7 separate regions of the Homo sapiens genome follow, and regions 2, 3, 4, 5, 6 and 7 are each reported to be linked to region 1. The links are microRNA targets in miRTarBase. Many come from high-throughput screens and were not tested one by one. Region 1 holds a microRNA gene; each other region holds the end of a gene's coding sequence.

What was found. The annotated mature microRNA hsa-miR-342-5p reads AGGGGUGCUAUCUGUGAUUGA and lies in region 1 at 1,594-1,614, shown strand. An mRNA with a match to its seed (bases 2 to 7 or 8) in the 3' UTR can be bound and repressed. Matches are read on the target gene's strand: a 7mer-m8 pairs with bases 2 to 8, a 7mer-A1 pairs with bases 2 to 7 and ends in A, and an 8mer does both.
Region 2: the mRNA of TCF3 is a reported target of hsa-miR-342-5p. Seed matches in the 3' UTR shown: 7mer-A1 at 1,639-1,645 and 7mer-A1 at 1,644-1,650.
Region 3: the mRNA of ELP3 is a reported target of hsa-miR-342-5p. Seed matches in the 3' UTR shown: 7mer-A1 at 2,752-2,758 and 8mer at 2,725-2,732.
Region 4: the mRNA of GPS1 is a reported target of hsa-miR-342-5p. Seed matches in the 3' UTR shown: 7mer-m8 at 445-451.
Region 5: miRTarBase lists ELN as a target of hsa-miR-342-5p. Seed matches in the 3' UTR shown: 7mer-A1 at 2,612-2,618, 7mer-A1 at 2,479-2,485 and 7mer-A1 at 2,124-2,130.
Region 6: miRTarBase lists UCP3 as a target of hsa-miR-342-5p. The part of its 3' UTR that is shown has no 7-base or 8-base seed match.
Region 7: the mRNA of FAM136A is a reported target of hsa-miR-342-5p. Seed matches in the 3' UTR shown: 7mer-A1 at 752-758.

Annotation. Positions count from the first base shown.
Region 1 is chr14:100,108,080-100,111,189 of GRCh38, forward strand. It overlaps MIR342 (microRNA 342), which reads left to right and starts at 1,576; the gene lies at 1,576-1,674. All of the region lies in intron 3 of EVL (Enah/Vasp-like), which reads left to right. MIR151B (microRNA 151b) reads right to left here and starts at 1,435; the gene lies at 1,340-1,435.
Region 2 is chr19:1,608,961-1,612,070 of GRCh38, reverse strand. TCF3 (transcription factor 3) reads left to right here. Exons shown (of 19, transcript NM_003200.5): 19 at 222-2,779. The coding sequence ends at 364. Among named protein-coding and RNA genes, the nearest start is that of UQCR11, 5.1 kb to the right of the region's middle.
Region 3 is chr8:28,189,549-28,192,658 of GRCh38, reverse strand. It overlaps ELP3 (elongator acetyltransferase complex subunit 3), which reads right to left. Exons shown (of 15, transcript NM_018091.6): 15 at 1,506-3,010. The coding sequence ends at 2,934. Among named protein-coding and RNA genes, the nearest start is that of ELP3, 98 kb to the right of the region's middle. RefSeq lists an enhancer at 303-1,055.
Region 4 is chr17:82,056,712-82,059,821 of GRCh38, forward strand. It overlaps GPS1 (G protein pathway suppressor 1), which reads left to right. Exons shown (of 13, transcript NM_001321092.3): 11 at 1-55; 12 at 129-263; 13 at 342-759. The coding sequence ends at 416. DUS1L (dihydrouridine synthase 1 like) reads right to left here. Exons shown (of 14, transcript NM_022156.5): 12 at 2,070-2,107; 13 at 1,630-1,705; 14 at 795-1,543. The coding sequence ends at 1,404. Among named protein-coding and RNA genes, the nearest start is that of GPS1, 6.4 kb to the left of the region's middle.
Region 5 is chr7:74,068,421-74,071,420 of GRCh38, reverse strand. ELN (elastin) reads right to left here. Exons shown (of 33, transcript NM_000501.4): 33 at 1,514-2,764. The coding sequence ends at 2,721. Among named protein-coding and RNA genes, the nearest start is that of ELN-AS1, 7.6 kb to the right of the region's middle.
Region 6 is chr11:73,998,765-74,001,874 of GRCh38, reverse strand. UCP3 (uncoupling protein 3) reads left to right here. Exons shown (of 7, transcript NM_003356.4): 7 at 349-1,598. The coding sequence ends at 463. Among named protein-coding and RNA genes, the nearest start is that of UCP3, 8.8 kb to the left of the region's middle.
Region 7 is chr2:70,294,620-70,297,619 of GRCh38, reverse strand. FAM136A (family with sequence similarity 136 member A) reads left to right here. Exons shown (of 3, transcript NM_001329752.2): 3 at 143-1,644. The coding sequence ends at 331. It overlaps LOC124906023 (a long non-coding RNA gene), which reads right to left. Exons shown (of 2, transcript XR_007086880.1): 2 at 1,606-2,562. Among named protein-coding and RNA genes, the nearest start is that of SNRPG, 2.4 kb to the right of the region's middle.

The DNA.
Region 1 (3,110 bases):
ATAATAAATGTTTTCCCAGTTTTTCAACCTCTTATGTCCTTCATTGATGCCCAGTGGCCCAGGGGCTGCACCTTCAGCACAGTGTTGAGAAAGAGCCCCGGAAAGGGACTTACAGGCAGACCTTCCCGGGAAGAGTCAGGCCCAGCTCCATGTGCTCTTTGGAGGGGAGTGGAAGGTTGTTAAACCTCATAGCTCTTGGAGGTGGGGCTGAATTTTGCTTCTTGTAAACCTCTTTCCATTGGAAATTACCTCTTTCTCCCCTAAAGAGAAGGAAGTACTGGACTGTCTTCATCTCCCTGGCTGCCGAGGCCATTTGACACCTTGTGCCACCTGAGAGAAAGCAGGCCCAGCATGGCCCTGCCTGAGGGGAACAGGACGGCAAGCCCCTGGCCTCCTGCCTGCTCCCAGCTGCCCTCTGGCGGCCACTTTCTGAAAGCCGGATATGTCTCTTTGCTGACCCACCCCTGTTCTCACCCCAGGGCTCCAGATGTTGTATCAGGCAGGGCCTTTGTACGCCTCCATGCCAACAGCTACCCAAGTCGCACCGTCAGTCACACTCTTACTCAGGCTCTCCTGTGCCCCTGGCCCTTCTTCCCCTCTCACTTTTCCCCACACTTCTAAAATCTCACTCGTCCTGTCAGAATGTGGCTCCACAGATGGAGCCTTTCCCAGCCGCCCCGCTCCCTGTGACTTTGCACTCCCTCCTGCACTCCCACGGGGCTTTATTTTTGCCTCTGTCCTAACAGTCAGCTGCCACTTGGCCTGTCCTGCTATTCCCACTGCATGAATCTAGTCAGGTTGGAAATTCAGAAAGTGGCCTCTTTGTCTCTGGACCCCAAAAACCCACACATCGTCTGCCTTATAAGCTCTCAGTATATCCATCCCTGGCTGCAGGAACACACCAGGACCCAGAGGCTGCCGTGCCTGGAGCCCTGTCTCCTGACTCAGCCCAGGCCCCAGCTCAGCATCGAGGTCCTGTGGGACCATGTCCAGCAGTGAAGGCTGTGCATTGGCCTGAGCCCCTGGTCCCTCTGACTCACTGGCTCCCATTTTCACCACCTGCACTGCATATTCTCACCGTCTCTCCCCTGACACTCTCTCCCCTGAAGTGTTGTAATGGGGTTGTAACCCATCCACCTTCTCTTGTCCTTCTTCAGTCTGTCCTCCCTGGGCTGCGTCTAAAGGGGCCCCGCCCCTGCCCTCATGCATGTTCTCTCCATACTCCTGGTCACCTTCTGCTCATCCTTTGCCCTGCTGTTGTGAAGCCTTCCCAGTGCCCCAGAAGACCTCAGGCACCCCTTCCCAGTCCTCGCACACTGTTGGTGTCCCATTTGTTTGGACCCTGGGTTTGTTTGTCTAGACTGTGAGCTCCTCGAGGGCAGGTGTCTGTTTCTGTGTCTCGGGAGCCCTGAAGAGAGACTGACACATCAGAGGTGTCTGGTGACTGAACAAGCTCCCAGCTTGCGCCCATGTCATATTGTGTGCCTCTCATAGCCTGGCACTTCCTGCCATTGCATCCTTCTCTGCAGACTAAGATGGAGTTCCTGAACCAAGACCGCTTGCTGGCCAACCTGTGAAACTGGGCTCAAGGTGAGGGGTGCTATCTGTGATTGAGGGACATGGTTAATGGAATTGTCTCACACAGAAATCGCACCCGTCACCTTGGCCTACTTATCACCACCCCAAACAGAGGAACACGCCTTCTCCAGCCACAGCCTATGGAAGGGCCTTCAGCTGCTGTGGCCCCGAGGTGTGCATACTGTGGAAGGAACTTCGGACGTGAACTCGGATCTGGTTCCAGTACCAGCTGTGCCAGGAGTGTGCCCTTGGGCATGTCACTGACCTAAGACTCAGTTTCGCCATCTGTGAAATGGCTGAATCAGACTCACCTCACAGGGTTGTTGTGAGGGTACCATGAGATGATGTTTGTAAACATTCTTTGTCACCTCTAAATTACTATAACAGTTTGAAGTTACTCTTTTTAAAAAAATTATTTGCAAAGGTAACTAACAATATCAGCCGTGCACAGTGGCTCATGCCTGTAATCCCAGCACTTTAGGAGGTCAGGGGATCACTTCAGTGTGAGAGTTCGAGACCTGCCTGGTCAACATAGCAAGACCCTTGTCTCTACAAAAGCATTAAAAATTAGCTAAGTGTGATGGCGTGTGCCTGTGGTCCCAGCTACTCAGGAGGCTGGGGTAGCAGAATTGCTTGAGCCCTGGAGTCTGAGGCTGCAGTGAGCCATGGTTACACCACTGCACTTCAGCCTGGGCAACAGAGCAAGACGCTGTCTCAGGAAAAAAAAAAAAAGGTAACTAACAATATCAACTCCTGTGTGGTGCCAGCAGCCATCACGTTGGGACACAGAGGGAAGCCAGGCTTCTTGGATCCTGATGGTCAGAGAACACTTTCTGAGGGAAGCGGGGCTTGAACCTGGGCCCTGCAGGGCTGGGGGTGAATGGGGGGATCTGATGAGGAGGAGGACGGCGGCACCAGCAGATCTTGGTGGTTTGGAAGTTCAAATCAAGATCTGAGAAGAGGCTCTGTCTGACCCTGGGGGTCTCCCTCGGCACATTGGTAGTACTGTGCATGCCTCACGGGTGCCCCTAATTTCAGAGCATCCCACCTGCATCCTGCTGCTGCCATTGTCCTCCTCAAAAGAGCTGCTGGCTTATTGCAGTTTACATCCTAGAGAAGAGAGGTCTCCTCCTTCCACCAGTCCCAGGATTATCTCCCTAACGCTAATGGCGAGATTCCTTTGGAGTTTTAGTCTTCTGTAGATACAGCCCAGGCGCCATGTGCCCAGTCAGGGTTTGAGATAGGTGGTGGTTCATTCCCCAGCCTTGCCTCACCAGCACCTTCCTGACGCCTCCTGGTAGGGCTCAGGAAGCAGCCAGCTGAGGTGTGCCTGCCATGGTCAGCACAGTGGTTGACAGAAGTGGCACAGATTGTGGGGGCAGGTGACAGGGTACCATGCCCTAGCTCCAGGCACCCGCTCCACCCTGTCACATGGAGCAGCTGTGAAACCTTGAGCAAGCCATTTCACCATTCTAAGCCTTAGTGTCCTCATTTTTTTTTTTTTTTTTTTTTTTTTGTGATAGAGTCTAGCT
Region 2 (3,110 bases), not on the chromosome of region 1:
TGTTCCCCAGACACCCCCTGATACCCACTCTCTTCTTTACAAGCCTCCACCCCATCCCCCCAGCCTTCTCAAGGAAGGAGGTGAGAGCCGGAAATACAGGAGGCCACACGTGATGGGGCTCTGCCCCCACCCCCCCCCCCGACATCCTACCCCCCACTCCCACCTCACATCTTTCTCCTCCCTGGGACCGTCTCCCACAGAGCTCTCCCCCCTCCCTCCAGAGCGGAACCTGAATCCCAAAGCAGCCTGTTTGAAACGGCGAGAAGAGGAAAAGGTGTCAGGTGTGGTTGGAGACCCCCAGATGGTGCTTTCAGCTCCCCACCCAGGCCTGAGCGAAGCCCACAACCCCGCCGGGCACATGTGAAAGGTATGCCTCCGTGGGACGAGCCACCCGCTTTCAGCCCTGTGCTCTGGCCCCAGAACGGCCACTCGAGACCCCGGGCTTCATCCACATCCACACCTCACACACCTGTTGTCAGCATCGAGCCAACACCAACCTGACAAGGTTCGGAGTGATGGGGGCGGCCAAGGTGACACTGGGTCCAGGAGCTCCCTGGGGCCCTGGCCTACCACTCACTGGCCTCGCTCCCCCTGTCCCCGAATCTCAGCCACCGTGTCACTCTGTGACCTGTCCCATGGATCCTGAAACTGCATCTTGGCCCTGTTGCCTGGGCTGACAGGAGCATTTTTTTTTTTTCCAGTAAACAAAACCTGAAAGCAAGCAACAAAACATACACTTTGTCAGAGAAGAAAAAAATGCCTTAACTATAAAAAGCGGAGAAATGGAAACATATCACTCAAGGGGGATGCTGTGGAAACCTGGCTTATTCTTCTAAAGCCACCAGCAAATTGTGCCTAAGCGAAATATTTTTTTTAAGGAAAATAAAAACATTAGTTACAAGATTTTTTTTTTCTTAATGTAGATGAAAATTAGCAAGGATGCTGCCTTTGGTCTCTGGTTTTTTTAAGCTTTTTTTGCATATGTTTTGTAAGCAACAAATTTTTTTGTATAAAAGTCCCGTGTCTCTCGCTATTTCTGCTGCTGTTCCTAGACTGAGCATTGCATTTCTTGATCAACCAGATGATTAAACGTTGTATTAAAAAGACCCCGTGTAAACCTGAGCCCCCCCGTCCCCCCCCCCCCCCGGAAGCCACTGCACACAGACAGAACGGGGACAGGCGGCGGGTCTTTTGTTTTTTTGATGTTGGGGGTTCTCTTGGTTTTGTCATGTGGAAAGTGATGCGTGGGCGTTCCCTGATGAAGGCACCTTGGGGCTTCCCTGCCGCATCCTCTCCCCTCAGGAAGGGGACTGACCTGGGCTTGGGGGAAGGGACGTCAGCAAGGTGGCTCTGACCCTCCCAGGTGACTCTGCCAAGCAGCTGTGGCCCCCAGGGCTACCCTACACAACGCCCTCCCCAGGCCCCCCTAAGCTGCTCTCCCTTGGAACCTGCACAGCTCTCTGAAATGGGGCATTTTGTTGGGACCAGTGACCCCTGGCATGGGGACCACACCCTGGAGCCCGGTGCTGGGGACCTCCTGGACACCCTGTCCTTCACTCCTTTGCCCCAGGGACCCAGGCTCATGCTCTGAACTCTGGCTGAGAGGATGCTGCTCAGGAGCCAGCACAGGACACCCCCCACCCCACCCCACCATGTCCCCATTACACCAGAGGGCCATCGTGACGTAGACAGGATGCCAGGGGCCTGGCCAGCCTCCCCCAATGCTGGGGAGCATCCCTGGGCCTGGGGCCACACCTGCTGCCCTCCCTCTGTGTGGTCCAAGGGCAAGAGTGGCTGGAGCCGGGGGACTGTGCTGGTCTGAGCCCCACGAAGGCCTTGGGCTGTGCGTCCGACCCTGCTGCAGAACCAGCAGGGTGTCCCCTCGGGCCCATCTGTGTCCCATGTCCCAGCACCCAGGCCTCTCTCCAGGTCTCCTTTTCTGGTCTTTTGCCATGAGGGTAACCAGCTCTTCCCAGCTGGCTGGGGACTGTCTTGGGTTTAAAACTGCAAGTCTCCTACCCTGGGATCCCATCCAGTTCCACACGAACTAGGGCAGTGGTCACTGTGGCACCCAGGTGTGGGCCTGGCTAGCTGGGGGCCTTCATGTGCCCTTCATGCCCCTCCCTGCATTGAGGCCTTGTGGACCCCTGGGCTGGCTGTGTTCATCCCCGCTGCAGGTCGGGCGTCTCCCCCCGTGCCACTCCTGAGACTCCCACCGTTACCCCCAGGAGATCCTGGACTGCCTGACTCCCCTCCCCAGACTGGCTTGGGAGCCTGGGCCCCATGGTAGATGCAAGGGAAACCTCAAGGCCAGCTCAATGCCTGGTATCTGCCCCCAGTCCAGGCCAGGCGGAGGGGAGGGGCTGTCCGGCTGCCTCTCCCTTCTCGGTGGCTTCCCCTACGCCCTGGGAGTTTGATCTCTTAAGGGAACTTGCCTCTCCCTCTTGTTTTGCTCCTGGCCCTGCCCCTAGGTCTGGGTGGGCAGTGGCCCCATAGCCTCTGGAACTGTGCGTTCTGCATAGAATTCAAACGAGATTCACCCAGCGCGAGGAGGAAGAAACAGCAGTTCCTGGGAACCACAATTATGGGGGGTGGGGGGTGTGATCTGAGTGCCTCAAGATGGTTTTCAAAAAAATTTTTTTAAAGAAAATAATTGTATACGTGTCAACACAGCTGGCTGGATGATTGGGACTTTAAAACGACCCTCTTTCAGGTGGATTCAGAGACCTGTCCTGTATATAACAGCACTGTAGCAATAAACGTGACATTTTATAACGATGCCCTGCAGTCCCCGGGTTCTTTCTGGTGTCACATGTTTAGGAAGGGAAGTGGGGGGGGGCCCTGACGTTCACCTCGGGTGCAGCAAGGACCGTGGTCCACCCTGTGCACTGGGCTTCCTCGAAGCGACTCCTCACTCTGAGGAGCCCATGGCTCCCAGGGCGGCTGGGAACCTGCATGTGTACTCAGGGCTCCAGGCCACCTGGAAGCAGGATTGGCTCCCGGGGAAAAGCAGCTCCCTGGGGGCTGCACTTGGGCGCGTAGGAACCATCCAGGACCTGCGGTCCTCCCAGCCCCCATCTGGGAGGGCTCCCCATCTCCCAACGTCCCCC
Region 3 (3,110 bases), not on the chromosome of region 1:
TCACACATCAGCAGTGAAGCCACTTCAGTGGGGGCAGCAACAACTATTGGTATATGTCCTGGTTTATGCAATGTCTCTCAAATGCCACATCTGATTCCTATGCTTGCCCCGAGAGACACGTGTTTACAAATAGGGAAATGGTAGCTCAAAACGGGGAGGGGCCTTGCTCAAAGCTTCATGGTTAATGAGGAAACCAGGTTTTCAGATTCCAGATCTTGTGCTTTTTTTTTTTTTGGTAAACTCAGGGGTCTGTGAGTTCTTTAGGAGCAGGATTTTCTGTTTTCAATGTGATAATCTTGAAAACAAAAAAGCCAAAACCCCATTGGCAATGAAAATTTGCAATCTGAAAGACGTTTTAGGGGAACAGGCGTTGGTTTTTGAGTTGTCTTTGCAGTACTTTAGGGCCTGCAGAGATGGAAAATGGATAAGCGGTTTGCTTGTTCCCAAATGGGAGGAACAATGAGTTTTACCAGGCCCTTTCATTCGGTGATAATGTATTTTAAAAATCTCATTTTCTCTTCAAATTTATTTCAGTCTGTTTTTGATATGACTTGAATTAAAAAAAGAAAAAAAAAAAAAAACTTCAGGTGATGTAGCCAGAAGTTGAGCTAAAAGCAGAGCTTTCTAGATTGGAGGTGGTTGCTAAGGAGTCCTTCCATTCAGATGGGATCAGCCTGCAGCTGTGATGGTTTCACACTGAGGCCAGCAGAATTGTGCCCAACTGAGCTTTCTTATGAGGTGGCCCCACAGGCCTCGGAGCAGACAGACCAGCCGGACAGTGGAGGTGCCAAGCACCATCCGTGCCGGAACGAGCCCTGGCAGTCACAAGAGAAGCGGAAGCTTCTGGTGGCAGAGGGAGGCGGGAGCTCTGCCACCCGGGGGAAGCTCCCCAACTGCTGCCGTTTTGCACAGGCCACAAGATACGGCAAGGAAGGCCAGGGATGAGCTAGAAAGAGGGATTCTCGTGAATCCTGAGATAAAACCAGGATTCAATAATAGCTGACAGCCATCAGAAAGGTGCAAGTTCCTGTCATTTTGTTTCAAATTCCCTAAATTGTCATCTTTTGAAGTGAACTTTCCACGTGCAGGCCTTTTTACCATTTCACAAAAGCCCTTTTATGTGTGTGGATCCATTTGGGCACCTAGGACAGATGAGAAGGTCGAGGCCCAGAGACTTTGTGCTCCAGGGCTGCGCAGCTGGTTCTGTCTCCAGCAACACAGCTCTGACAACCAGCGGGAGTAGGCTTTATTGTTTTATTTTTATAGGGTAAAAAAGCATAATTGAGAAGTAGCTAAGTCCCTAAACGACACTCATGGAAAGCTGTGGTGGTTCCACAGCCAGCCCATAACAAAGCCACTGCCATTTGCCTCATAGCAGTTTAATGAAATGGCAAACAGCACCCGGGAGGAAATGAACAGTGCCATAGGTTGGAAACTGAAACCTGCACATTTGTGGCAAATGTCACTGCATTTACAGGGAGAGAAAGAAAACCACATGACTCTTCTTTGTATGTTAAAGACTTTTTATTTTCAGGCCCTTTCAGAGGAATCAATTCCTTTAAACCTTTGTAAAATGCCACAGGAGCCAAGGTTAAGCGATGCTTTTAACTTAGGAACTGACCCTCTCCAGGCAGAGTCTCCAAAGTAGATTACCTCGAAATTTCAAAGAGGCAGTTCTACAAGAGGAGCCTTTGAAGAAGCCAATCCTGTTTTCCATTGTTTTGCTTTCACACACGGGTTGAACTTGAACTCTTACCTTTCTCCATTTATAACAACCAAAATCCACCTTAAAAAATCAAAGGCTGGGAGCGGTGGCTCATGCCTGTAATCCCGGCATTTAGGGAGGCCAAGGTGGGTTGATCACCTGAGGTCAGGAGTTCGAGACCAGCCTGACCAATATGGTGAAACCCCCATCTCTACTAAAAATACAAAAATTAGCAGCGGCGGGTGCCTGTAATCCCAGCTACTCAGGAGGCTGAGGCGGGAGAATCGCTTGAACCCGGGAGGCGGAGGATGCAGTGAGATTGCGCCACTGCACTCCAGCCTGGGTGACACAGCGAGACTTTCTCAGAAAAAAAAAAAAAATTGCAAGTAATGGCTTCTGTGGAAGCAAATCTTGATTTAGGGGCACACAACCTGAGACTCCACCCGCTCAGGATAGACAGACAGGAAAGCCAAACGCTCTCTGGGGACCACACTTGGGGCTGCCCACACTGCTCTGTAGTTGCCAAGAGGGTGGGAAGTAGAGATAACAAAGAATGTGGAATGAAGCTCTTTGTCATCGCCGTCTCGGATGGTAGACTCCCGCCTGGGAGAGGCTGCTGGCTGGCTGCTGCCAGGCTCACACCCCCACAACTGCAATTCCTCTTTCCCAGTCACACTGCTATTTATTTCTAAACATCAGCACTGTAATCAGAATGATTTCCATGAAAACAAAAGCTCATTTTCCTAACTTGCGCTCCAATGCGTATGTCGTTAAAGGGCTGAGATTAGAGTCTGGTGGTTTTCCTGTTTCAACCTGACTTTCTGTCCCCAGGGTATATAAATAAACTACTCTTAAGTTTGCTCCTCGAATGACAATCAGTTTTATTGCATGAGTTATGGTGTCCAAATGAGTTAATTTGCTTTTTTCACCGTCTGAGTCAAAATAGGCCACCTGCAGGCCTCATGCAAAATGTAGAAACTGGATAGATGATTTAAGCCTCAAAAACGCAAGTGATTTTTTGGGGTGCACGCAGGAGAGGGCGGATCTGGGGTGTGGTCAGCAGATGACCAGCCGTGGCCTTGAAGGCAGTTTCCAGTCTCTGCAGCTGCGGGATGAGGGTGAAGCCCCCCATTTGCTCTGCTCAGCCTCTCTGTTGAGTATTTAAGAAATCCTGATTCTCCGTGTTCTGCCAGGGAGGATACTGCAGAAGAGTGGACTGGTGTGGCCATTATTTCAGCATCTTCACCATGTACGGGCCTTGTAATCTGTAGCCGATCTTTCTATAATAATTCCTGGTGCCGACCCCTGCAGAAAAATCGAAGTTAAAAAAGGAGCATTCACTTTAGCAATTCTCAAAAGTCGGCATGTGCTTCCCTCAGCCTTACACTCTCTCCCACCCAGAGAC
Region 4 (3,110 bases), not on the chromosome of region 1:
GACGCAGCTAATCCTGGAGGGGCTGATCAGTGCCCGTGTGGACTCACACAGCAAGGTGGCTGTGGGCTGCGGGGCGGTGGGGGCAGCTGGGGGTGAGCCTGGGCCCCGCTGAGCTTGTGCCTGCACAGATCCTATACGCCCGGGACGTGGATCAGCGCAGCACCACCTTTGAGAAGTCTCTGTTGATGGGCAAGGAGTTCCAGCGCCGCGCCAAGGCCATGATGCTGCGGGCAGCTGTGCTCCGCAACCAGATCCATGTCAAGGTGGGCTGGCTTGAGGGGGGGCAGGCGCACGGCGTGTGGGGCCTGGTGGCTGTGAGCTGCTCCTTGTCTCCCCTGCAGTCCCCGCCCAGAGAAGGGAGCCAGGGGGAGCTGACTCCAGCCAACAGCCAGTCCCGGATGAGCACCAACATGTGAGGGGTGAACCTTGGCCTCCAGGACATCTGCACCCCCTCCCCACCTCCACGGACCTCGGACCTCCAGGCGGCTCAGTGCTGCCTGCGGCCCAGCTAAGGGGCCTGGCCACTGGGTGCCACCCAGCCTGTGTGCCCTCCCTGGGGCTGAGGAGGCAGGCGGCTGCTAGTTGTGGCCCTTCCTGGAAGGAGAGGCCTGCAGGGCTCGACCCTGTGGGTTTCTGTCCCCAGGGAGCAGACTGTGCGGCACCCAGGCCCAGTGGCACCATTTCCCAGACCCCTCCTGTTCCCGCCTCAGTCAGGTGCAGACAAGTGGGCGGTGTCCATTAAAGAGCAGACTCAGCGTTGCTCTTGGCTGTTCTTTCCTGCCGTGCAGGCTCTGGTCACCCCTGGGTGGCCTTGGGTTCCTGAGGGCTGTCTCCCTGGGACTAGGCTTGGAGGCAGGGCCTGGTGAGAGAAATGAGAAGCCTGGCCCTCAGATTCAACAGCCCCCAGCAGCAGCCACTGTGGCCTCGCAGGCGGTGCTTCCAAGGCTGTGAGGCATCACGAAGCTCCCGGAGGCTTTGGCCACTTGCCTATGGAGGCGCCTAGGGGAGGTGGGGAGGGGACCTAAGCCCCCACTTTTGTCTACCCAGATGCTGCCTTCATTTAGATGTATCCTGTTGTTCAGAAGCCCCCACTGGCCCCAACCGCACCTGCCCCGGCTCATGCCTCCCTGGGTCTGAGAGGGCAGTGGTCACAGGCTGTGGGCTCTCGCATCTTTGAAATGATTTATTGTTCACTTTTGCACACGCGTGCTGAGGACAGGGCAGGTCCAGCCTGGGGCCTGCTCCCCACTGCAGCATTTCCAGGCCCCCAGAGTGGGCCGAAGGGGGACATGGGCGTGTCTTTCCACATTAAGTAGCAGGAGATTCCCTGAGTAAAAGGCATTTTCTTAAGTAGGACGTGTCCAGGCTCCAGCAGCAGTCCTGGGGGTGGGGGTTGTGGGCCTTCAGGCCAGGGCACTGCCCATGACTTCGGAGAAGCCACCTGGTGTTCCAGGTGCTGCTGGCTGAGGCTCCTGCAGCTCAGGCTGGGCCTCTTTCCAGGCCAGAGACTTCTCCAATTTGGTTTTAAAAAGCAATCCGTGACCTGGCAGAGCGAGTGAGAGGAGTCGGGGGTCAGGAGGCGGAGGGGGTCTGTTTGCCTGCTGCGGGGCGGGTGGTAGGCGCCCTCACCTGGGCAGTCTGCAGTCTCTTTGGAGGCTCGCTTCTTGCAGCAGCCGCGGCACAGGCTGAACACACATCTGTTGCCCTGGGCACAGGAAATCTCGGGAGCCTGTGGCCAGCACCACTCCCGGGGCCAGGCTGGCCAGCAGGGGAGCAGCCCCACTGGGGAAGCCTCTGCCAGATGCCCACGGCCTGGATGCAGCCCTGGGAACTGCTCCCAAGCCAGATGCCTCTCCCTCACCCCCACCCACCCAGACTCTCTTCCCCTCCAGGCCTGGGCAGGGGCTTGGCTGGAAGCAAGGGGCCGTCCTGAGGCATCCATGCCACCTTGAGCCACGTTGCAAACCCAGCTGGGCGGGCACCAGACCTGCCACCCCAAGCAGTGCAGAGACCACCCTGCCCACCCCCAAAGCTGAAGCCTTGGTGGCTTGCAGCCGGAACCCACTCACCTTTGGGTTTCCACACTGGTCACACTTTGCATATTTTGCTAGGAAAAGAACAAAAGGGTGCTGGTGAGTGAGGGCCAGGGTGCCCTGGCTGTGGGGGCTGCCCCGTCCGCCTGCACGGAGCCTGCTGATGGCGTCCATGCCAGCTGTGGCCAGCCAGGCCAGGAGGCTCAGGGAGGGCAGAGGATGCAGGCTGGCCACGTCTGCTTTTCCTTCCGTGAGCAATGGGTGAGGGGATGCAGGGGGCACCATCCTGCAGGAAACGGATAGGAAGCAGGTGGGCTGGGGGGCCGCCGCAGGACGAGCAGCCTTATCTGTCCTACCCCCAGGCAGGGACAAGGGGAGCAGTTTTCCTGCCCACAGGGTCCAAGGGGGGTTCCATGCCCTTCAGTTCCAGGTCTCCCAAGCAAAAGGGCCAAGAAGGGTCAAATCAAGAATTCAGCCTGAAGCCCCACTTCCTGCCTCTCCCAGCTGCCTCATTCAGTGGCCTGGTGGGGGGCAGTGTGGCAGGCAGGGACTGCTGGCACCAGCCTGATGTGGCAGCTGCTCTTGGACTGGCCAGCGCCCTGGGGGTTACATGGGAAGGTTTCAGGGTTATCGCTGGTCTCCCCTGCAGCTTGTAAAGTTGTCAGAGATCTGGGAGGCTGCCACCTGTTGAGGGCCCAGATGGGCTGGCCCAGGATACGGCGGCGACCAGGGGTCTCAGGGGAGACAGCACTAGGCTGAGGCCTTGCCACTGGTGGCTAAGAGAGGGGCGAGCAGCCTCGTCCCGTGCCTTTGGCCCAGCAACAAGACCCATGCACACACTCCCGGGGACCCCAGCCTCCCTCTCAGCAGCTGCTCAGGTGTCCTGTGTGAGGCTGGGCAGGGGCAGCCGCAGGGACCCGAGGCCCTGAGCTGTAGACGAGCTTCACCTGGCTGAAAAGCTTGTCCCATAGCCTCATCTGATTCACTGAGCCCATGTCCCACATGCACGGGCTGTGGCCTGCACAGGGTCCCCGTTCTGACCCCAAGTCTGGCTGACTACTCCGCCAAGCCCTCCAG
Region 5 (3,000 bases), not on the chromosome of region 1:
AGGAAAAACCAGCAATGGATATTTTTGTCGAGTGAAGTAATGAATGGATGGATGGACTGGTGGGTGGATGGATGGGTGGATAGATGGATGGATGGATGGGTGGGTGGATAGATGGGTGGGTGGGTGGATGGGTGGAAGGAGACATGGATGGATGGAAGAATGGTTGGGTGGGTGGGTGGATGGGTGGGTTGATGGGTGGGTAGGTGGACAGATGGGTGGGTGGATGGGTGGATGGATGGATGGATGGATCTACTTTGTCACCACTCTAGGGCAGGCTGTGTCACCCCTCCCTGGATTATTACAGCAACCCTCTTGTGCATCTCCTTGAACCACGCCGCTCACCCCCTCCTGATCATCCTCCATAAGTCCTCAGCACTGCCCTCTCCTACCAGACATCTAGTTGTCCTGTCCTCTGCCTGAAAGGCCTGACCCTCCTCTCTGTTCTATTCTTTGCCTGGTAAAATGTTTTTTGCCCTTTACTGTCCTCTGGGAAGCTCTCTCTGAGCATACCCTCCACCAGCTTTCTCTTTCCCTCCCAGCTCCTTCTGGGATCGCAAGGATCCTCGTATGCAAACCCACATATGCTCCAGTCTGCATGGTGAGCCCCACCCACACTCCCCACGAACAGCTCTGTTGCCACATTTCTGGCTTAGAGGTGTGCACACTCAGCACGGGGCCCGCTCTCAGGAGGGTGGCACAGGCCTGAGGCTGAGTGAGCCCTGGAAGTGGGCTTGGTGGTTGGGGAAGGGAATTCCAGTATCTGGTATCCAGAGCGTGGTCTAGAGGTAGGGATGTGGGCTGCAGGTGAACACATTCCCGGGCCCCACGGATTTCTGGCCTCAAGGGGAGGAGGAAGGGCCAGAATGGGAATGGGTGCATCTGAGTAAGGGTGGAGCTGAACCTGCTGCTGGGTATCACTTCTTAAACTTCTCAAGCCAAATGGCCTTACATGGCCACGCATGAGAGTGGGTCTTCCTCAGAGGGGACTGTTTCGGAGGAAAATGGTTACCTTTGACTGTCTTCTGCATTTTCTTAGGTCAGCCATCTTTCCTCTCTGTCTCTTTCTGTTTCTCTCTCTCTCTCTCTCGAGACAGGATCTTGCTGTCTCACCCAGGCTGGAGTGCAGTGGCGCAATCATAGCTCACTGCAGCCTCGAAATCCTGGGCTCAAGCGATCCTCCCACCTCAGCCTCCTGAGTAGCTGGGACCACAGGCATGCACCACCACCAATCTTGGGTAATTTTTTTTTTTTTTGTAGCTATATGGTACAAAGTGATTCTCCACTGGACAGCTATGTTGTCCAGGTGGGTCTCAAACTCCTGGCCTCATTGTTAAAGTACAAGCCAAACTTGGAGAAAGATCGATGCCCCAGAAGCCAGCAGCAGGGGCTTTTGGTTGGGCAACCTCTCAAATACACTGTGGGTGGTGGAGGTTCCCTGAAGCAGAGCCCTTATCCCCATCCAGGCCAGCGAGTTGAAGGCAGATTAAATCATACGAAGGAAGCTAAGACACAGTTTCCTTTAAAGGTTTTTCATTTATTAGTCATTTCTGAAGCAGTTAATTCTCTTTTCTTATTAAAAAAAAAGGTGTGTTTCATCCAGAGTTATATTAGAGTGATTAAAATGTTTTTTCTACTGGGGATACAGCTCCCCGGATCAGAAAAAAAAATTATCTTTTTTTTTCAATGAACCACAACAATAAAACCAAAAGAGAATATCAACAATCAAAAATAATCCCCAAATATCCAGGACAAAAAATAAAATATTTATTGATCTATCACAGCGAGACACAAAAAGATGGGCGGGGCAGGAATGGGAACTGCTCTGAAGTTCAGTGGACCGAGGGAGGGATGGGGGGTATACAGTACTGCATGTGGGGACACCCCGGGTGGGGAGGAGATGCCTGGCACCCCAGTCTGCACAGCCCCGCACGCCCTGGGGGAGTGTAGGATGGGGGTGGAGGCAGGGCACAGGCGGCCATGACAGGTCAACCAGGTTGATGGTGGGTGCACCCAGCCAGCTAGTGGTGCCGGGCGGTCAACTGGGGACATGGATGGACGGACCGATGGATGAATGGACGGATGGGCGGATGGATTCTACAAGGGCAAGGTGGCTATTCCCAGTGTGGGGTGGTTTTCCAACCCAAAAGCGCCCCAGATGTGGGGAACAGCGATCGGTGGGGAGGAGACGGCCAAGTGGACCCAGGAGAGGAGGGATGCTAGAGCGAATCCAGCTTTGAGGCTTCAGGTGCTTGGGTACCAACTGGATGGCAGCCAACGGTGGGTCCTGGTGGGCAGGGGGAGCTGGGACTGCCCAGGAAGTGTCTGCACCATCTTTAGAGGAGCCCCAGGTAGGGGGTTCCCCGAGGGGCCACCCTTCCCTCCTCCCTCCCCCCAGGAAGATAAGAGCACCAGCGTGTAGCACCAAGTTCCCCTGGAGATGGAGGCTGTGTGGAGGGGGAGCTCCTAGGTGGGAAGGGATGGGGTGGGGGGCCAGGACCACATGGCCCTTGCCTCTGAAGTAGGGGGCCTCCTGGTCGGGGCACTTGGCCGCTCCCCTCTTGTTTCCTTGCCCTGTGGATCTGCAAGGCCGCCCGGCCTGCCCGTTCCCTCCTGGGGTGGGGAGTCGGAGGGGCATGGGATGGGGTTACAAAGGGTTTACATTCTCCACCAAGCAGTAGCACCAACGTTGATGAGGTCGTGAGTCAGGGGTCCTAGGAAGCTCATTTTCTCTTCCGGCCACAAGCTTTCCCCAGGCAGGCCCCACCTGGACGGGAGGAGGTGCACATCACTGTGAGTCCGGCCCCTCTCAGTTTCGGCTCTAATCCCCGCCTGCTCTGACCCACTCGAATGGAGGCTCCAAGAAGCCAAGAGAAGCCAAGTCATGGCCCCAGGCCAAACTCAGACCTGATCCATGCCATCAACTTCCACTGGACAGATGGGGCGGGAGAAGCCCCCAAGATATTACTTGGATGAAACCAACGCTCGCAGAAAAGGGGGCAG
Region 6 (3,110 bases), not on the chromosome of region 1:
CTTACTAGCCGCGGGTCTTTGGTTGAGCTCTTAACCTCCCTGGGCCTCAGTTTGTGAAAAAGAGCCTGGCAGCAACATGGCTGCCTTATAGAACTGTGAGAATTCGCTGCCTAACACAGTAACCCGTCTCAAAACGTGAGTTTTTTTTTCTTTTCCTTACTCCGACTTCTGCCTAAATCCCCTTAGCAGAAAAAAAAAAGAGAGAGAGAGACTGAAAGGATTCAGAAAATGCTTGTGATGAACAGAAGTCTGGATCCTCTGGCACTACCACTGTGTCCCGGGAGAGCACACGCATCTGTTGTGGTCCCCTAGCACTCCACCTGATGTGTTGGTTGTTTTTCTTATCAGATTTACACCCTCCTTTTTGCGTTTGGGATCCTGGAACGTGGTGATGTTCGTAACCTATGAGCAGCTGAAACGGGCCCTGATGAAAGTCCAGATGTTACGGGAATCACCGTTTTGAACAAGACAAGAAGGCCACTGGTAGCTAACGTGTCCGAAACCAGTTAAGAATGGAAGAAAACGGTGCATCCACGCACACATGGACACAGACCCACACATGTTTACAGAACTGTTGTTTACTTGTTGCTGATTCAAGAAACAGAAGTAGAAGAGGAGGAGGGATTCTGGTCTTCACTGCCATGCCTCAAGAACACCTTTGTTTTGCACTGACAAGATGGAAAATAAATTATATTAATTTTTGAAACCCATTAGGCATGCCTAATATTTAGGCAAGAGAAAATAAACCAAGATAGATCCATTTGGACAAAATGGAAGGTTGGAGACGTGTATCCCCGTGAAATCTGGTTAGATAATGAATGATAAGCAGGAAGGATGGCAAGCACGGGACAGGAGGGGCCCACAATGGAGTGGGAGATCAGCCACGGAGCCTGGAGGGATGCCACCCAGCAACACAGAGCTGGCGACTGCAGCTGCACCATCACACATGCATCATCAGCCTATTTGTAATATGTCTGCCACAGAGAGTCCTTTGGGATTCTAGGAAACCCAAGGAACAAGAGAAAAAACTAGAGCCTGTGCTAAAGAAGCCCTGCTGGGCCCATGTGAGGCTGGGGCTCGTAAATATTCCCTGACGACACTGAAGAATCAAGAGGGCAGCCCCCACTTTCCTACAAAATGGAGGGAGCCATCCCTTCCCTGTCCACCTCACCAGGGGTGCTATGACATGCAAGTGAGAAGCTGGGCATGAACGCACTTTATAAAAGCAAAAGCTCTGTGTAAATCTAACTACAAGGACAATGCCTTGGGAGAGATTTTGTCGGGACAGAGAGGAGTTGCCAGGGAAGAAGGTTTGAAAGATACGGTTGTCTAGAGGTGAGACCAAAGGATCCAGAGACTTGGGGACCAGAGGTGACAGTGGATGACGTGAAGCCACAGGAGCCCCACCCCCATGCAGCCTCTTCCCCACCCCCCCCACCACGTGCTCAATCATGAGTACCTCAAAGGATTGTTGGGCTTGGGGGAAAAGAGGTGGATTCCTGGGCAAGAACCTAAAGTAGCAGGACTCGGAATTCTCGGGAAATTATTATGACTCAATAAAAGAATTCACACCTTAGGTGTGGGAGTAAGAACAGCCACTTCTCTGCCTTTTCTTTCTTGGAATTTTCCTTTCTCACTTCTATTTCAGGCTTTCTATGTGTCAGGGCAGGGCCAGATCCAGCCCCACATGCCTACACTTCATCTGCCCCCTCTCACCCTGTTTAATTGCAGGCAAGTAGCTTTATTTTTTTAGGGTTCCAGCTCCTGCTTCTGCAAAAGGCAGGGTTGAACCAGACGACCGACTTCCAAGCTTAAGACTGTACATTTTTCGAATTGATAATGGGGACCCAAAATGCCACTATCTTTTTCTACTTCTTGGCAGCCTTGCGTAGCTCTGATGATTGTCAGGACTGGGTTCAAACCTCACCCCATTCTACCTTACTAACCACCTAGCCACAGGGAATCCTTGCACCTTGGTGTGCTACCAGAGAAGTGGGAATAACAATCGCTGCTTCACAGGCTTGTTGTGAGGGTTGACCTAAAACTCCTTGGAAAGCAGACATGTGGTGTGCACCTGCTACCTGGGAGGCTTAAGCGAGAGGACTGCTTGAGCCCAGGAGTTCAGGGCTGCAGTGAGCCATGACTGCACCTGTGAATAATGACTGCACTCCAGCCTTGGCAACAGAGCATAACTCCTTCTCTGAAACAAAACAAACAAAAAATCGTTGGCATACAGGAGGCACTCGGTAATGTCATTTCCCTGCTTCCCTGCTCCTACCCCTCCAGACCCTGGGAAAAAGCAAATATCTATTCATCCTCAGCACTTTCCTAAATTTAAATTATAACTTGAGATCATCTATGTATACAAACTGGAGAGTTCATACAAAAGCAAAAAAAAATTATTTTGATTTAATGTCTGGCTTGGTTTTCAAATAAAACCCATATTTTGAAAAGTTTCCGGTTGGTGCAGTGGCTCACGCCTTTGGGAGGCCGAGGCGGGCGGATCACTTGAGGTCAAGAGTTTGAGACCAGCCTGGCCAACATGGTGAAACTCTGTCTCTACTAAAAATACCAAAAAAAAAAAAAAAAATTACCCAGGCATGGTGGTGGGTGCCTGTAATCCTAGCTACTCGGGAGGCTGAGGCAAGAGAATCACTCGAACCCAGGAGACTGAGGTTGCAGTGAGCCAAAACCACACCACTGCACTCCAGCCTAGGCGAGACTCTGTCTCAAAAAAAAAAATTAAATTGAATTGAATTAAATTAAAAGTTTCCCTTTTTAGCCAGGCATGGTGACATGTGCCTGCGGTCCCAGCTACTCGGGGGGCTCAGGTGGGAGGATCACTTGAGCCCAGGAGGCGGAGGTTGCAGTGAGCCGAGCTTACACCACTGCACCCTAGCCTAGGTGACAGAGTGAGACCCCATCTCAAAAAACAAAAACGAAAAAAGAAAAAAGAGTTTCTCTTTCTTTTGACTTGACTGACATGTGCAAATCACTCTCAAACTCCTGGTCTCAGTTTGTAAGTTTCTAGGGCCAGGAACTATATCTTCCATGAATTTCCATATGGCAATATTAACACACCACCTACCCAGAGGATGCTATTCAGGTGA
Region 7 (3,000 bases), not on the chromosome of region 1:
TGGCCAATCACACTACCATGTCCCTTTAATTGACCAAGATAATACATATTAAACCTGTAGCACAGGGCCTAACACATAATGAGCACGCAGTAAATGGAGGCCTTACTCTCAGCTTTTTCTACGTTCTTCCTTCTTGCCACAGGACCGCCTGGCCCGGTGCACCATGCATTGCAACGACAAAGCCAAAGATTCAATAGATGCTGGGAGTAAGGAGCTTCAGGTGAAGCAGCAGCTGGACAGTTGTGTGACCAAGTGTGTGGATGACCACATGCACCTCATCCCAACTATGACCAAGAAGATGAAGGAGGCTCTCTTATCAATTGGAAAATAAAAGTATTTGCCAGTGGCCATCAGGGCTGAGGGCAAGAATATATTTTTTATAAGGAATTGGGAATTTTAGTCTTTTAAGCAAAGTTTACGAATGAAGAAATGAAGGATGGCCACAAGCGTAAGGCATATGTCACTTGCCTCTGGACACTGGTTATTTTATGTTTCAGTCCCTAAAAAATGAAATGGAAAAAAGTGGTGCTAAATCGAGTCAGAGATATTACAGGAGAGTTTTAGAGCTTATTATTTCCTGTGGCCAGTGCTTGTCCTGGCAGTAAGGCTTTCCCCTGTAACAAGCCAGAGCCCTCCAAGGTACCAGACTCTTCTTACTACACAGGTACTAACAGGCTGGCAGGTTAGAGTTGGTGGAGTCTGAGGAGAGATATTTTCTCTTTGTTGCCAACATCCTGTTTACCAAAAGTGTCACCCCACCATCTTCCATAAGCTGTGAAACAAAATCAATGAGGTCACTAACTTAGAAGGGAAAGAAAGTTTTCTGGGTCTTTGTTTTCTTGATTTGGGGTAATTTATACAAGGGCATACAAGTTGATTTTAAGATGTGGAACTGGGAGGTAGACTAGTTTGGATAAGAACTTTGAAATGTTCCTTGTGGATCCCCATTTCTGGTCATCAAGATGTGGATGTACATTTCTTAAAATTATTACATGCTGCATCTTTCAGCCTGGAGACTGTGCAGAAACATGAGAGGTGATGACACACTAATTATGGGAAGCAGAATTACTGGCTGATGGCCCCTGAGGCTGTGTGTAACAAAATGACAGGACAATCTTGCAGTAACACTTTCCCCTTGAAGAGAAGGGGGTTTTGATTGTGATATATACTAGTATCTAGGAATGAACAGTAAAAGAGGAGCAGTTGGCTACTTGATTACAACAGAGTAAATGAAGTACTGGATTTGGGAAAACCTGGTTTTATTAGAACATATGGAATGAAAGCCTACACCTAGCATTGCCTACTTAGCCCCCTGAATTAACAGAGCCCAATTGAGACAAACCCCTGGCAACAGGAAATTCAAGGGAGAAAAAGTAAGCAACTTGGGCTAGGATGAGCTGACTCCCTTAGAGCAAAGGAGAGACAGCCCCCATTACCAAATACCATTTTTGCCTGGGGCTTGTGCAGCTGGCAGTGTTCCTGCCCCAGCATGGCACCTTATTGTTTTGATAGCAACTTCGTTGAATTTTCACCAACTTATTACTTGAAATTATAATATAGCCTGTCCGTTTGCTGTTTCCAGGCTGTGATATATTTTCCTAGTGGTTTGACTTTAAAAATAAATAAGGTTTAATTTTCTCCCCACTATTGAGTCTTCTTTCCTTATATCTGGGTGGTGAATATGTAACTTTCTCAGGATGCTTCTCCTTTTAACAGGTTAAATGAGTTAAAATGTCCAGAAGAGTGGAAATTAGTTGTTATGGTTCAGATGCAGAACTGGTTCACTGTAAATGGGAAAAACTTTGAGAGGAGACTAGGACATTGTGACTTGAAGTTCATTAATGTAGAAAAGAAACTGTCTATGAGGCTAAAAAGAGAAATTCATTATCTATGTCAGGTCTCTAGCTTCAACTAAACACTAATAGCAAGTGGTAGTAAAGGTACAAAGCTATGACCCTGCTAGAAAAAATTCAGTGTCTAGGATTTTGAGTACTAAGAGAGTGCAAAATATGTGATGAGTTTAAGTCTTTACTATCATTGATATTTATATAGAGCCATTCCAGAATATCAGGAATTAACTGAATTTTTGAGAACTATCCCCTATTTAAACACAAGGTATTCTATTTTGGTTTAGTCTTCTATAATTTTGGGGTAACAACTGGGAACAAGTCCGAGACCACTTTTTACACATCTTGACATGAAAAAAGAACACCTTATATTAGAAAATGTTTGTGTGCTGCACTTCACATTTTATATACAGGGGCAATAGCACATCAGTGAGTTCTGGAGGTAGTGTTTGAAAAATTTCAGAATTCCCAGGCATGCTGGCTAACCCCTGTAATCTCAGCACTTTGGGAGCCGGAGGCAGGCAGATCTCTTGAGGCCAGGAATTTGAGAACAGCCTGGGCAACAAAGCAAGACCTCGTCTCTACAAAAAAAAATTAGCTGGGTGCAGTGGCGTGCGCCTGTAGTCTCAACAACTCAGGAGGCTGAGGTGGAAGGATTGCTTGAGGCCAGGAGTTCGAGGTTGCAGTGAGCCATGATCACACCATGCTCCCCAGCCTAGGCGACAGAGCAAGAACTCATCTCAAAAAAAATTTTTTTTGCAAGACCCCTCAGTCAGAAATAGATTCAAATTCTTGGAGACAGACCCAGTCACCTTACTCTACAATGGTTCAGAGGCTGCTAATTTACATGTTACGGGAACCCTACTTGGTCTGACAGTATGCTGTAGGGTTACCTGCCAAAAAAATATAGAGGCCCAGCCGGGAGCGGGGGCTCACGCCTGTAATCCCAGCACTTTGGGAGGCCGAGGCCAGCGGATCACGAGGTCAGGAGATCAAGACCATCCTGGCTAACACAGTGAAATACGGTGTCTACTAAAAATACAAAAAATCAGCCCGGCGTGGTGGCGGGCACCTGTTGTCCCAGCTACTCGGGAGGCTGAGGCAGGAGAATGGCGTGAACCCGGGAGGCAGAGCTTGCAGTGAGCCGAGATCG